2 linked regions of the Homo sapiens genome follow. The protein of the gene in region 1 purifies or fractionates together with the protein of each later gene. This does not show direct contact. Each region holds a gene or a part of one and is shown in the gene's direction. Other genes may lie near its edges.

Evidence for each region. Proteins that work in one complex are often made in the same cells at the same time.
Region 2: the proteins of SENP6 (region 1) and ZDBF2 purify together in Homo sapiens (affinity purification with mass spectrometry; 2 studies listed by BioGRID and IntAct, with this or other methods). This does not show direct contact.

The regions. Positions count from the first base shown.
Region 1 is NC_000006.12:75,604,880-75,611,879, forward strand, and holds part of SENP6 (sentrin-specific protease 6), read left to right. Parts: intron 1-7,000.
Region 2 is NC_000002.12:206,290,719-206,299,316, forward strand, and holds part of ZDBF2 (DBF4-type zinc finger-containing protein 2), read left to right. Parts: intron 1-1,292; exon of another isoform or gene 1,293-1,344; coding exon of another isoform or gene 1,345-1,398; intron 1,399-6,527; coding exon 6,528-6,655; intron 6,656-8,598.

The DNA.
Region 1 (7,000 bases):
CTGGCCAACATGGTGAAACCCCGTCTCTACTAAAAATACAGAAATTAGTCTGGCGTGGTGGCGCGCGCCTGTAATCCCAACTACTCGGGAGGCTGAGGCAGGAGAATCACCTGAACCCAGGAGCTGGAGGTTGCAGTGAGCCGAGATCGCACCATTCGCACTCCAGCCTGGGCGAGGAGCGAAACTACATCTCAAATAATAATAAAATATTCCACCATAATTTGCTGCATATTTTGTATTACCAGGTTTATAAGTGTTCAAAATATTTCCCCATACATAGGCTCCTAGGATTTAATATTAAGACATCTACATATTACACTTTCTTTACTTTCCAGTCGAGTCCTTGAAAAACTAAACTAGGTTTTCATTTGCTCATCACATTTACAGCATCCTACTCTAACAGTCAGTGTACCACGGTGAAGTGCATAAGAGAGTCAAGGACTCTGCCTTTATTTAGTCTTCTGTCTTAGGTTCTGTGAAAGCATATCTCTGTAATAAACTGTGAAAAAGTAATGACTTTTTTTTCACCATCATATTTCTTGCACCTGAAACATATTTGTTGTTAATGAAATAAACCAGATGATAAACAGTATGATAAATACGGAAGACATAAACAGCAATGATGGGGAAGCCATTTTACATAGCATTGAAGTCAAGAAAGGCATCCCTGAGGAGGTTACACTTAATTAAGTAAACACCTTAACTAAGAGACACTTCAGAATATGGCAGAGGGGATGCGTGTAAAGATTGATTTGATAAACAAAAAGGCTGAAATGTAGAAAGCAAAGGAGAGAGTGATATGAGAGGCAGGAGATCTTTCATGCAGGATCATGAATAATTTTTATATCTTTCTCAGCGGGAAGCCATTGACGAGTTTGGCGCAAGGGGGTGTAATGATATGGTTTATCTTTTTTTAAAAAAAAGTTTGGCTGCTTTTTGTGGAATTAATTAGGGGGCAAGATTAAAAGCAAGACAATAAATTAGGATAATATTGTAGTAGTCAAGGTAGAAGTGGTCGGGGCTTCAATTAGCATGATGTCAGTGGAGACTGGGGAAGAGAAGTTGATAGGTTGAGGATATGTTTGGATGTAGAGCTTACAGGACTTGATGAACTGTACATTGAGTGTCAGAATAAGAGGAATCAAAAGGTTTTGTTTAGCCTGAGGTATTAGTGGTACTGCCATTTACTGAGATGGAGTAGACTGATAGAAGAATGAGAAGGAAATTAACAACACTGGTCATACTAAATTTGAGATGCCTGTTTGACATTTTTGCTCTGAAGTATGTTTTATATCTTTATAACTACTAAGATTCTAATTCCATTTCTTTTTATAGCTTCTGTAGGGAAAAGGAGACCTACTGGTTGTCTTTATTTATACAAAAGCACACTAAAATTGTATGGATTTCATTAAGCCACAGCTTGTGTTAAAATTTTCTACTCTCCTCTCCCCTCTTTGACTTGTTTCTTTCACTTCTCTTCACTAACTGTTGCTCATAACCCCTTTTCCACTTATGATAGACAGTTTTGGCAGGTTGCTCCCCTGTATTTATTCAGTCAACAGATACTTATTGAACACCTACTATGTTGTAGGCAATGACACTGCACTGAGAGGCATAACAGTGAGGGAGAAGAAACCATGTTTTTTTCATAGAGTGTTCAGTCTAGTGAGGAAAGTAAAAAATAATAAAATAATACTTTTAAATGTAAAATTACAACTGACAAGTACAGCAATCAGTGGTGGATTGTTTATACAAGTTGAACATCCCAAATTTAGAAATCCAAAATCCTCCAGAATTTGAAGCAACATGACCCCCCTAAGAAATGCTCATTGAATCAATTCAGATTTTTGGATTTGGGATGCTCAGTTGGGATAATATAATAAAATTTGCAAATATTCCAAAATCCAAAAAAAAAATCTGAAATCTGAAACATTTCTTCTAGTTTCAAGCATTTCGGATAAGGGACACTTAACCTGAAATCATGAGAATTGGATCTAATCAGGGTGGTTTGAAGTGGGTATTAGAGAACAGAAGGTAGAGAGGCAGTGCTTTCTAGGTAGAGAGAGTAAAATAGGGGAGCATGGCATGTTTGGGGAACTTAAGGGAGGACAATAATGGTGTCAGATAGGAGAGCGGTGCAAGATGATACTGGAGGTGACATCACATTTATTTCAAACAAGGTCAATAGCCGGGCATGGTGGCTCACGCCTGTAATCCCAGCATTTTGGGAGGCCAAGTTGAGAGGATTGCTTGAGCCCAGGAGTTGGAGACCAGCCTGAGCAACATAGTGAGCCCGTGTCTGTACAAAAACATAAAAAAATGATATGGGAGGATTCTTGAGCCCAGGAGGGCGAGGCTGCAGTGAGCCATGATCGTACCACTGCATTCCCACCTGGGAGTACAGAGCGAGACCCTGCCACCCAAAAAAAAAAAGGTCATCAGCTGCTACATGGAGAGAGCTTCAGAGAGGGGCAGCAGATTATCCAGTTAGGAGATGATTGGAATAGAGGACAAAGGTGATTGATGGTGGCTAGCTTGTTCCTATAAACTTTCTTTTGATATTCTACCTTTTCTTTTTTTCACTCTGGGGGCTCTAACAAGCCTACCTACTCTCTTATACATTTCTTCATTTTTGTACTGCACTTGTTCATATCTAGTTTTCTTTTCCTTTTTTTTTTAACCAAGTGAATTCCTTCTCCTATATTTTCTCCCGTTTTTCCTGAAGTAACTTTTTTCTGCCTTCCTTTCTAATATACATATACTACTACTTTAGTTTGTTTTCCTTTTCATTTCAGCCTGTCTTCCTTTATGGACCTTGTCTACTAGGTTGAAAAGAGTGATGCTAAACTGTTGCATGCAATGTTGTTCTCTACAGATACCAGCAAAAATGCTTCTGTCTCCAAATGAAAAGTGTTTTCCATTTCGCCTTAGCCAGTCTTTTATGTTATATATAAACTCATTGCAGAACCCAATCAGTTTGCCAGTTTTACTGGAGACCGTAAATACCTAACACTGTCTGTTGAACTAGAGCACAGCTTCTCCCAAACGATTGGCATTCCATGGAATATGAACAGGGTTTCTAGTTTCTGCCTACTTAGGGGAATACACCTCTTTTTCTTTTGATTGCATTACTTTTGGAAACTACATCATGGTGTCATTCCTTATTTACTCCTTACTTAAGTATGTTTATTTCCTGATTTCATCCCAGTTAAAGTGATAAATTCTGTTTATCATGTGAGTTCATGTACTTGAAACAGTAAAGTAGAACCTCACTTGGAATGAAAGTGATTTTCAGGCAAAGTTTAGTGGGTCATACCTGTTATCCTGAGATAACACTTCGGGAGGCCAAGGCAGGAGGATTGCTTGAGCCCAGGAGTTCAAGACCAGCCTGGGCAACATAACGAGGCCCCATCTCTGCAAAAAATACAAAAATTAACCGGATGTCACAGCATGCACCCAAAGTCCCAGGAATTCAGGAGGCTGAGGTGGGAGGATTGCTTGTTGCTCGAGCCCAGGAGGTTGAGGCTGCAATTCATGACACTGCACTTCAGCCTGGGTGACAGAGCTGAGAAGAAAGAAAGAAAAAAGAGAGGGAGGGAGAAAGAAAGAAGAGGAAAAAGAGGAAAGGAGGAAGGAAAGAAAGAAGGAAAGAGAGGAAGGAAAGAAAGGAAGAAAGAAAGGAAGGAGAAAAGAAAGTGATTTTCGCTAGAAATGCATTGAGAATATGAACTCAAAAGTCAGAATGCTGAGGTTCAACATCTGGCTTTACTACTTGTTAGCTATGTGATCTTGGATAGATTACTTAACTTCTCTGTTTTCTCAGCTATATAACAAGGGTAATAATTGTCGTTAAAAATAATAATTGTAGTTACCTTATAAGATTGCCATGAGGATTGAGGAAATATATATTACTTAAAGCAATTCCAGGCATATAATAAGCACTCCGTGTTACTTGATATTATTTATTTTATTAGCAGATAGAGAAAAGAAAAAGAGCTTCCTTTACTTGCTTGTCTTCTCTTCTATTTGAATTTTAGTTTGCATTGTTTTTCTTTCACTGACTACCTTTTTCTAGATATTAGCTGATTTTGACCAGTGTTGTAATGAGAGAGGAAAGAGAATGAAATTACATACTTTGTATGTCTAGACTTTCATAAATTGATTATTCCTGTTGCTATTAGAAAAGTATGTTGAATATTTGAGGAACTTGAGGTATAGAAGGGTTGTTTGGCACAGCTTAAGTTATTGGGGAAGTCAGACTGTAGCCTGGGACCCGACTTAATAGCTTCAGCTTTCTTCAGCATTTCCTTCCTCTCCCTTTCTCCCCGCTTCCTCATCACTTTGCTTCCCTATTCTTACTCTTACCTCTTTTTCCTGTACCTCCCCCCAAAGGAAGGGGCGACTGAACAAGAGAAGGAAAAATAATAAGTTATTATGGAGAAGTATTATTTATTGATGAAGCAGCACTTTTAAGAGGGCAAAAATGGAAAGCCACAAATCTCTTGAGGCCCAACTTCAGAAATTTACAGTGTTAACGTCTTCCACATTGTATTGGCCAAAAGAATACAGAGCCAGCCCTGATTGAAGGGGAGAGGGAGTAGATTCCACCCTTCAGTGGGAAGAATGACAAATAATTTGCAGCTATCTTTAATCTATACAGCCATCTTTTCTCTCCCATACCTACCTGGTATTTTTTCCCCATTCTTTCAACAGTCAAAGTATTTTTCAACAGTCATGTGGTATTTTAAATGACAATTCTTATGAAACCCAAAATCCAACTTTTGGACAGTTTGGGAAGCTAAAGAAAGACAAAACAAAATGGGCAACTTAATTAGTAATTTATTTCAAAGATATAAATAGCATAGAAACAGTCATTAGTTTAATGTTTTGTTTTTGTTTTTGTTTTTTGAGATGGAGTAGATGGAGTCTCGGCTCCGTTGCCCAGGCTGGAGTGTAGTGGCGCCATCTCAGCTCACTGGCTGACTGCAACCTCTGCCTTCCAGGTTCAAGCAATTCTGCTTCCTCAGCCTCCCTAGTAGCTGGGATTACAGGCGCATACCACCATGCCTGACTAATTTTTGTATTTTTAGTAGAGATGGGGTTTCTCCATGTTGTCCAGGCTGGTCTCAAACTCCTGACCTCAAGTGATCCACCTACTTCAGCCTCCCAGAGTGCTGGGATTAGAAGTGTGAGTCACCGCACCTGGCCTTAGTTTAACTTCTAGTTGATTGGGAATGGATTCAGGAATTTCTGAAACTAGGCAAGCATAAGTATGGACAAAAGAGGAAGAATGTTAGAAACTTTTCCTTCCTTTTGTTTTTTCTTTCATTTAGTGATGCCTGGGTCTTGCTCTCATTTTCATTACTTAAGCTCTTAGAAATGGTCATACTATTCACGATACTAAAAGTAAAACAGTATCTTGATATAAAATGCCAGTTAATCCACTAAGTCACAGACTGTTAATGCTCACAGTTACAGCACACTTAAGTTGTATACCTAAGTCATATTACTTAGAATGATGCAACAATGGATAATCCATTATTGTGAACTGCAAATGATGGTTGCCATCATCAGGTAATAAAACAATGGCTACAGTTACAGAAAGTGATAGATAATCTGTGCCATATCCATTTGACACTAAAAACAGGGTTGTTTTTGGACCCTAATTTTTTTTGTCTACCTTAGGGTTTTGTACTTCCCAGAATCTTCTGCATCCATTGGCAAAAATTATTAACTATTATCTTCAGAGTATATGGGGCTTTCAGTGCTAAAATTGGGATAGTCCCAGGCACACTGGGATGTTTGGACACTCTGCCTTGTCCTAGTTTAACAACAGCTACCTTGAAGCCATCTGAAATCAGCCTGGAGTAGTATGAAAACAGCTATGTTCTGATCTTGCCTTTGGAGGTTGTTTTTGTTTGTTTTGTTTGGGGGTGGGGTGAGGGAGGAGTTGCTATATCAAATACATTTTATAGTTTTTGAAGATGCGTTTTTTCCCCCTCCCAAATTCACTGCATTACAGTTTTTGAAACAGAACGGGAGAAAAAAAATAACAAACAGTGCTGGCATCCAATAGATGGTAAATTCACTTTTCATTTTTAATAAAGAGTGGACGACGAGGAACTAGAAATTCTCCTAGGCTTGGAGAATTTAAACTGTTTAGTAACCTTGTTGTTTCATATATTCAAAAATCTACAACTTTCTACCTTCATAACCTCCTACTTATGAATCAAGAACTAAATTCTGGAGACAAGATGAAGGTACTACTTAACTACCATGACCCCTGCTGACTCTGCTTCTGTGGAAACCAATAACTTCTCTTTCTTCATAACCCCAGTGGTCACTATTTGAATGAAGTGGGATTCCAAACATTTTGGCATTCAGTCTTCTGTTTTCAGCCCAGGTTGGTTTTCATTTTTTAACCACAGGAGATATAAAAGAATGATTTAGTAAATCATAATAGCAGTTAAGTCTGAAGCTGTTCATCAGCTTCTCCTTCACAAGTTTGGGTATCAGCTCCTCAGTCTCTTTTGCTTTCACCATTTACAGGCTTCACTTATTTCTTGAGTCTCTGTTAATTTAAGCTTTTAATGAAACTGTGCATCTTCCTGAATTACGTGTTTGCACTTTCAAAGTTAAAGTGTTTCTCAAATTTCATTGGTCTGTCTCACAGAATACTGAATTCCCTGACACTTTGATGATCCTCTCACTTTAAAGCATAAGGAACATTTGGAACTACTTATCTCATGCAGTCATTTCTCGGTTTAATTTCTGGCTTTAGAAGTTTGTGTGCTTCAGCTTGAGATAAGTGTATTTTTAAGAGATTGTGTATTCTGTGTAAAGGTAGCGCCAACTGCACTGCTTTGGAATAGGTATCATTGCTAGACTTTTTCATTCCATAGAAAGTTAAGGAGTTTCCAGCAACACCTGTAGCACTAAACTGCTGCCTGACTAACGAACTGAACTGACTATGCTATCATCTTGCTGAAAGGTACATAGA
Region 2 (8,598 bases), on another chromosome or scaffold:
CTTGTTTATTAATGCTAATAATTTTTTTTGTAGATTCCTTAGGATTTTCTATGTACTACATTATGTTCTCTCCAAATAGTTTTACTACTTTTTTCCCCAATCTGGATGCCATTATTTCTTTTTCTTGCCTAATTGCTCTTGCTAGAATTTCTAGTATGATGAGTGTTAAAGTAGTGAGAATGGATATCCTTGGTTTTTTTTGGATCTTGGGAGAAAACTTTCAGTCTTTCATCATTAAGTTTGATGTTAGTTGTGGGTTTTAGCCTAATTTGCTAAGTGTTTAATCATGAAAGGGTATAGGCTTTTGTCAAATGCTTTTCTGCAACTATTAGATGTATGTGTTTTTTTCCTTTAGTCTATTAATGTAATATATTACAGTATTCATCAGCTCAGGCTGCCATAATAAAATACGATAGACTAGGTAGCTTAAATCAGCGGTCCTCAACCTTTTTGGCACCAGGGACTGGTTTCGTGGAAGACAATTTTTCCACAGATGGGGTGGAGGGGTGGTTTTGGGATTTAACTGTTCCACCTCAGATCATCAGGCATTAGATTCTCAAAAGGAGCACGCAACCTAGATCCCTTGCATGCACAGTTCACAATAGAGTTTACGCTCCTATGAGGATCTAATGCCTCCACTGATCTGACAGGAGGTGAAGCTCAGGTGGAAACGCTTGCTTGCCTGCCGCTCACCTCCTGCTCTGTGGCCCAGTTCCTAGCAGGCCACAGACCAATACCTAACAGCCCTTCTCACTGTGTCCTCCTGTAGCAGAGGGAGACGGCGATTTCTCTTCCTATTTTATAAGGCCGCCAATCCTATTGAAGATGTCGCTACTGTTAGGACTTCATTTAACCTAAATTACCTCCTAAAAGCCCTGTCTCCAAATATTAGGGGTTAGAACCTTAACATGTGAATTTTGGGGGGATGTAGTTCAACCTATAGCAGTTAGATTGATTGGTTTTCAGATGTTAAACTTATTTTGCATCTGTGGGATAAATCCCACTTGGTCATGGTGTATAATCCTTTTTATATGTTGCTGGATTTGGTTTGCTATTAATAATATTTTGTTGACAATGTTTGCAGCCTTGTATTTCAAGGCTTTGGAGAACTGTAAAAGCAGTGAAGTAATATGGGGCCCATATCTAGTGAAGTATTTAACAGAAACAATGGAAGCCAAAAGAAAGAAAACAACTGCCACCTAGAATTCTCTACTCAATACGTATATCTTTTAATAAGGAAGGTGAAATAAAACTATTTTCAGGAAATAAAAATTAAGGGAATTTGTCACCAGCAGACTCTCACTAAAGGAAAAACTAAAAAGGAGTTCTTCAGGCAGAAGGAAAATGATTCCCGATGGAAGCTCAGAGATACAGGAAGTAATGAAGAACAGTGGAAAGGTAAATATGTAGGCAATCAATCTAAGTGAATACTGTCTTGTGGGATGAACAACAATGGCATATAAATTGGGAGGGGAGTAAATGATGTTAATTTCTAAGGACTTTGCATTGTTTATAAAGAGAATAAAAGTAACAAGTAATTTTAGGCGTTGACAGTTCAGGGTTGCTCATTGTAATCTCTTACCAAAATAGACTATGAAAAGTCTGTAACTAACTACAGAGTTAACAGAAAAGGAAAAATTGAAATGATGAAACGTAGTCCACAAGAAGACAAGAAAGGAGAGGAAAAGGGATAGTTGTATAGGCAAGAGTAACAGATTGAAAAAGTTAAATACAACTCTATCAGTAATACATTAAGTGAAAATAGGTTTGATGCTTGAATTACAACTGTATTCAATATTTTGTCAGAGGTCCTAGTCAAAGAAATAAGGAAAGAAAAATAAAAATGATAAAGATTGGATAAGAAGAAATAAAACTATTATTTATACACAACATGATGGTGGACATAAAAACTAAAAAGATATCTAGATAAACCATTAGAATCAATAAGTGATTTTAAAAGGTTGTTACACTAATGTAAAAAGAAAGTGTATTTTTATATACAGATACCATGCAGAAAATGAGATAAAAAATCATTTACAATAGCATCAAAGAACATCAAAATCTAGGGAATAAACATAAGAAAATGTAAGATCTTTAAACTAGAAACTATAAACCTTGAAAGAAATTTTCATGTTCATGGATTGAAGAATCAATATTGTAAACATGTCAGTTCTGCCTAGATTGTTATATTTATCCAATGTAATTTCAATCAAAATCTCAGAGAAGTATTTTTTTTTAATGAAAAGCCAATTCCAAAAATAAATGTGGGAAAGTAAAAGGCTCAGAAGAACTAGGATAATCTTAAGAACAAAGTGAATAGATGTCCTCTATCAGATACTAAAACTTATGAAACTTTAGTCTTTAGTCTTTAAAATAGTGCAGTTTTGCTGCAGAGTTAGAAAGACCATGGAAAAAAACCAGGAATTCCAGAAACAGACACATTTATGGATGTCTGATTTGTGACAAAGGTGCTGCACAGCAGTGAGGACAGGACTTTCTTCAATAAATGATACTGGGTCAATTGAATATTCATATGGAGAGGAAAATGAAACTTTATTGCCGAATCACCCTGCATATAAAAATCAGTTAGAAGTAGACTATGATTTGGCTACATGTTGTAGCCAAAATAGTAAAGCTTCTAGAAACAGGAGAAAATCTCTATGACTTTGATGGTAAAGAGAGATTTCTGGCCACAAAAAGCACTGACAAAGAAAAAAAGATAAAACCGGACTGCAATAAAGTTAAACAATGGAAGATGATTAAGAAAGTGAAAAGAAGCTGCAGAGAGGAAGATGGTACTTGAAACACATATAATTGAGCAAAGAACTGGTGTCCTGAATAGGGAATTTCTACAAGTCCATAAGGAAGAGACAGAACATCCATTTGAAAAACAGAGAGACTTGAACAGACCCAATGTAAAAGAGGATATCCAGATGGCTAGTAAATATGAAAAGCTATTGCAAAAATTACAGATTAAGGCCACAGTGATATAACAATAAACATCCTTACAATAGCTAAAATTAAAGAGACTGACAATAGCAAGTGTTGATAAGGAGATAGGAATACTGCTGGTAGGGAATATAAATTTGTACAGCCACTTTGGAAGACTGGTCGGTAGGGAGTACTAAAGCTGAACATATGCAAATTTTATGACCCCGAAGTTTCACTCCTAATAATGCACTCAACAAAAATGCATGCACATTGGCACCAAAAGACACATACAAGAAGGTTCTTCATAGTATTATTAGTAATAGCCAAAAGCTAGAAACAACACAAATGTCCATCAAGAGTAGAATGAATAAATAAGATATGGCATATTCATACAATGAATATGCAGAAAAGAAAATGAACAGATTCAGCCAATATGTATGAATATCACATATATAATATTGAGTAAAATAAGCTGAATGCAATAGCATACATATTATATGACTCCATTTATATACATTTCAGAAAATTTCAAAACTATAGTATTAAAAGTTAGGTAATAGTTACTTTTGGGGAAAAGGGAAGGGATTGGGATGGGGCATTACAGGGATTTCTGGATGCTTGTCAACTTTTTATGGATAGATGGTAAGGATGTGTCTACTTTGTGATAGTTGATTGAGCTGTATGCATATGATTTGTGTACTTTATGTTATACATCAATTCAAAAAATCTAAAGGAACGGATACCTTATAGGATGTAAATGAAGTTTTCTATTCACATTGCTTTTTTCTTTTTGCCTTGGCAGAGAGAGGACAAGGTTGGATTTTAGTATTTATTTTTGTAATTTCAGCTTTTATTTTAGATTCGGGGGGACACATGTCCAGGCTTGTTACGTGGGTATGTTGTGTGATGCTGAGGTTTGGGGTACAAATGATCCCATCACCCAGCTAGTGAGCATAGTACCTGATAGGTAGTTTTTCGAGCCCTTTCCCCCTGCCCTGTCTCTCCTGACCCAGTGTCTCCCAGTGCCTTTTATTCCCATCTTTATGTCCACATGTACCTAATGTTTAGCTCCCACTTAAAAGTGAGAATATGTGGTATTTGGTTTTCTGTTCCTGTGTAAATTTGCTTAGGATGATGGCCTCCAGCTGTATCCATGTTGCTGCAAATGACATGATCTCATTTTTTATGGCTGTGTAGTATTCCATGATGTATATGTACCACATATTCTTTATTCAGTAACGTTGAATTTTAACTGAATATTTATTTGTTTCCTTGTGCATTTGTCCCCTTTAATCACCAGGCAGTCTAACTCTGGTGATGGGTCCTGGACAGTGGAGAGTTTCGTAGCAGGATTTTGAAAGCATCATAATTTAGATTGTTCCTGGGGCTAGGAGCACTAGCATGGACCTCTGAAGTCAACATGGAAGAAAATAATTCCAAGAGTTGTAACACAGTGGTCAGGAGCTAGCAACCTGATTTAAGTTCTTTAACACCTTTACCGTGATATTTTAAAATGTCTTTTCTAAGTATTGTTAAATTAAAATGCACTATTAAATTATAAATAACATGTTAGAAATATGCCATTTGCTATTTGCTAGCATAATACAATGAAAGAGGATAAGCTTCAGAGTTAGATTCAAATCCTGGCCTTGCTGTTTGCTCATTATAAAACTTTGGGCAGTTTACTCTAATTCTTTTTTTTTCTTTTCTTTTCTTTTTTTTTTTTTTTTTTGAGACAGAGCCTCACTCTGTCACCCAGGTTGGAGTGCAGTGATGCAGTCTCGGCTTACTGCAACCTCCGCCTCCAGGGTTCAAGCAATTCTCCTGCCTCAGCCTCCCAAGTAGCTAGGACTACAGGCGCGCAGCACCACCATGCCTGGGTAATTTTTATTTTTTTATTTTTTAGTAGAGACAGGGTTTCGTCTTGTTGGCCAGGCTGGTCTTAAACTCCTGACCTCAGGTGATCTGCCCACTGTAGACTCCCAAAGTGCTGGGATTACAGGCCTGAGCCACTGCGCCCAGCCCAGTTTACTCTAATTTTTTGTGCCTTAGTCTTTTCGTGCTAAATGGGGACGATATTCTTACTCAGTGAAAAGTCAATGAAGATTACTGTGTAAATGGAATAGCACTGTGTTTGGTACATCATAGGTGCCCCATAGGTAGACTTTTTCCCATTCTGCTTGCTACTCCACTAAATAATATTAGTAAAGAAAGAATCTTTCTAACTGTAGAGAGAGTTACAAGACTGAAAAATTTAGTGTATTTATTTTAATTTTGTGTTTAAGTTGGGATTTTTAATTTCTGAAAGAAAATAAAGGTACCTTTTTTGTCAATCTTTGACCTCTTTTAATACAATAATCCAACCCTGTTCTCTCTCTTAACAGATTTTCATTTTAAAAAACATTTACTCATTGAAAAATATAAGAATTTATAAGAAAAATTGAAAAATTACCCATAACTGCACCACACTGATATCTGTACTAGTAAGGTTTGGTGTACACTAGTCCCCCCTTATCTGTGGTTGGTTTCAGTTACAGCCAGATGTGGCTCGAAAATATTAAATGGAAAATTCCAGAAATAAATGGGCAAATAAATTGCATGTTATTCTGAGTAGCTTGATGAAATCCTTCGCTGCCACTCATTGTCCCACTCAGGACATGAATCATCCATTTGTCCAGCGTATTCCTGCTGTCTGCCCATTAGTCACTCAGTAGCTGTCTTGGTTATTAGATCAACTGTTGGATATCACAGTGCTTGTGTTCAAGTAACCCTTATTTTACTTTTATTACAGTATATTGTTATAATTGTTTTATTTCATTATCAGTTATTGTCATTAATCCCTTACTGTGTGTAGTTTATAAATTAATCTTTATCATAGGTATGTAAGGAAAAACATATATAGGTTTGGTACTATCCACCGTTTCAGGCATCCACTGGGGGTCTTGGAACAAATTCCCTGCGGATAATAGGGGACTACTGTAATTTCTTCCATTTACTTGTCTGTATGTTTTTAAACTGTAGTTTGACATGAAACCATACGTGTGGTTTTTGCATTCCTCATTTTTTTCTAAATCCAGCGCCATAGACTGCTCGGCCACACCACACTCATTTTTTCTTAATATGTAACGTTTCCCCATGTTATTAAAAATTTTCTAAATCCAGCACCTTAGACCACTCGGCCACACTACCACACTCATTTTTTCTTAATATGTAACGTTTCCCATGTTACTTAAAATTCTTTGTATTATTTTAGATAGCTGCATAGTATTACATCTTAGAGCCTATTATAATTGAAGTCTTTTACTGTTAGAAACTTAGGAGGTTTCCAGTTTTTTGTTATGCTATGATAATGGCATCTTTTTTGCATGAATCATTTACCTTTAAGACTATTTCCTTAGGCTGTACTTAGGGAAATCTCATTATTTTACCTAAGGGAAAGTAGTTTTATGGTTTTTAGATGCAAATTTCAGAATTGCTTTATAGAAAAGCTTTCAATTCATAATTTTACCAAGAGTATAGAAATGAATCCATTTTGTCGAACTCTCACTACTGAATACTGTCCATTTAAAAATATTCCATTTCTTTTTTCTTTATAGCATTTGTTCAGTGCTCAGCACAGGAGTTTGACCAGACAGAGTAGACGTCAAATATGTACCAGTAGTTTGATGGAACGTTTCTTACAGGATGTACTGCAGCACCACCCATATCATTGTCAAGAGAGCAGGTAAAGTAGTTGATTGGAATAATATTTATACGTAGTTATATGTTACAGTAGGTGTTTGTGTTCATGTCCCAATCAATACTTTAAGTGAATCTTTGAGTCAAGGAATATAAAGTAAAATTTTAGTAACTTTCATTTGCAATTTAAAATTTTTCTTAGCTGAAGTAAGAAATTTCACTACAGAAGATATGGACTACACTATGTTTTTTTCTAAATAAAAGTCTTAGGCTAATAATTATATATCATTAAGATGTTTTATAAGTATGTTATAGGATTAAGCAGGGGGAAAAGGAGGAAGAGATAGTTTTTTTTGTTTGTTTGTTTTTGAGATGGAGTTTCGCTCTTGTTGCCCAGGGTAGAGAGCAATGGCACGATCTCAGCTCACCGCAACCTCCACCACCCAGGTTCAAGCGATTCTCCTGCCTCAGCCTCCCGAGTAGCTGGGATTACAGGCATGTGTCACCACGCCTGGCTAATTTTTTGTATTTTTATTAGAGTTGAGGTTTCGCCATGTTGGTCAGGCTGGTCTCGAATTCCCGACCTCAGGTGATCCACCCGCCTTGGCCTCCCAAAGTGCTGAGATTACAGGCGTGAGCTACCACACCTGGCAAAATGGTTTTTAAAAGGTTAGCAACAGAAAAACTGGTGACAATAGCAGAGTAAGGACAATCAAGTCAAAACTGAGTCAAATCCACATTAATAGAACTCTTTGCTAATTCTGAGGAAAAGAGGTAGCCAAAAGAATTGGGTTTTTAAATCTGTCTGTATTTTGATAGCTTTTCTTGTATCCATTTGTTTTAGTTGTTTTTAATAAAAATAATTATTTTGATAACATTTAAGAGTTAATGCCCTATGTTAAAGAAAAACATTGGTAGAAAATCAGATTAAATATTATAATATGTTTGTAGCTCCCGCTGTACAAGATAAGGTAAAAATCGATCATTAGCACATCTGTGCAGTTAACTGAGATGTGCACCAGTTAGTAGAAAAAGGGATAAACTTCTTTGCCTTGCAAATCACTAACATAGACCTTAGAAATGGCAAAAATATTTTAATGGGGAAAAGTTAGAGGAAAACAAGATGGTTTCTTAGCTGGTGGGAAGATAGAATTAGCCTATCCTGGGGTCAGTATAAATTTCCAGGTTTTTTTTGTTTTTGTTTTTGTTTTTTGAGACGGAGTCTTGCTGTGTCACCCAGGCTGGACTGCAGTGACATGATCTCAACTCACTGCAACCCCCACCTCCCTGGTTCAAGCAATTCTCCCTGCCTTAGCCTCCCAAGTAGCTGGGATTACAGGCACCCGTCACCATGCCTGGCTAATTGTTTTGTATATTTAGTAGAGACTGGGTTTTGCCATGTTGGCCAGGCTGGTCTTGAACTCCTGACCCCAAGTGATCTGCCCACCTTGGCTTCCCAAAGTACTGGGATTACAGGAATGAGTCACCGTGCCCAGCTCCAATGTATAACTCTCATAAGCAGTGCTTCAGCAAACATGTTTTTACATGAATTTTTTTTTTCTTTTTTTTTTGAGACAGAGTCTCGGTCTGTTGGCCAGGCTGTAGTGCTATGGCACAATCTTGGCTCACTGCAACCTCCATCTCCGAGGCTCAAGCAATTCTCCTGCCTCAGCCTCTCGAGTGGCTGGGATTACAGGCATATGCCACCATGCCTGGCTAATTTTTGTATTTTTAGTAGAGACAGGGTTTCACCATGTTGGCCAGGCTGGTCTCGAACTCCCGACCTCAGGTAATCTGCCTGCCTCGCCCTCCCAAAGTGCTGGGATTACAGGCGTGAGCCAACACGCCCGGCCACATGCAACTATTTCTATGGTATAGCTTGCTAGAATTTGAAGTTCTGGGTCAGAGTTTACGGACCTTAAAAATTTTTTATTTTTATTTTTTATCTTTCCTTTCTGGAATAATTTCAGGCTAACAAAAATGTTGTAA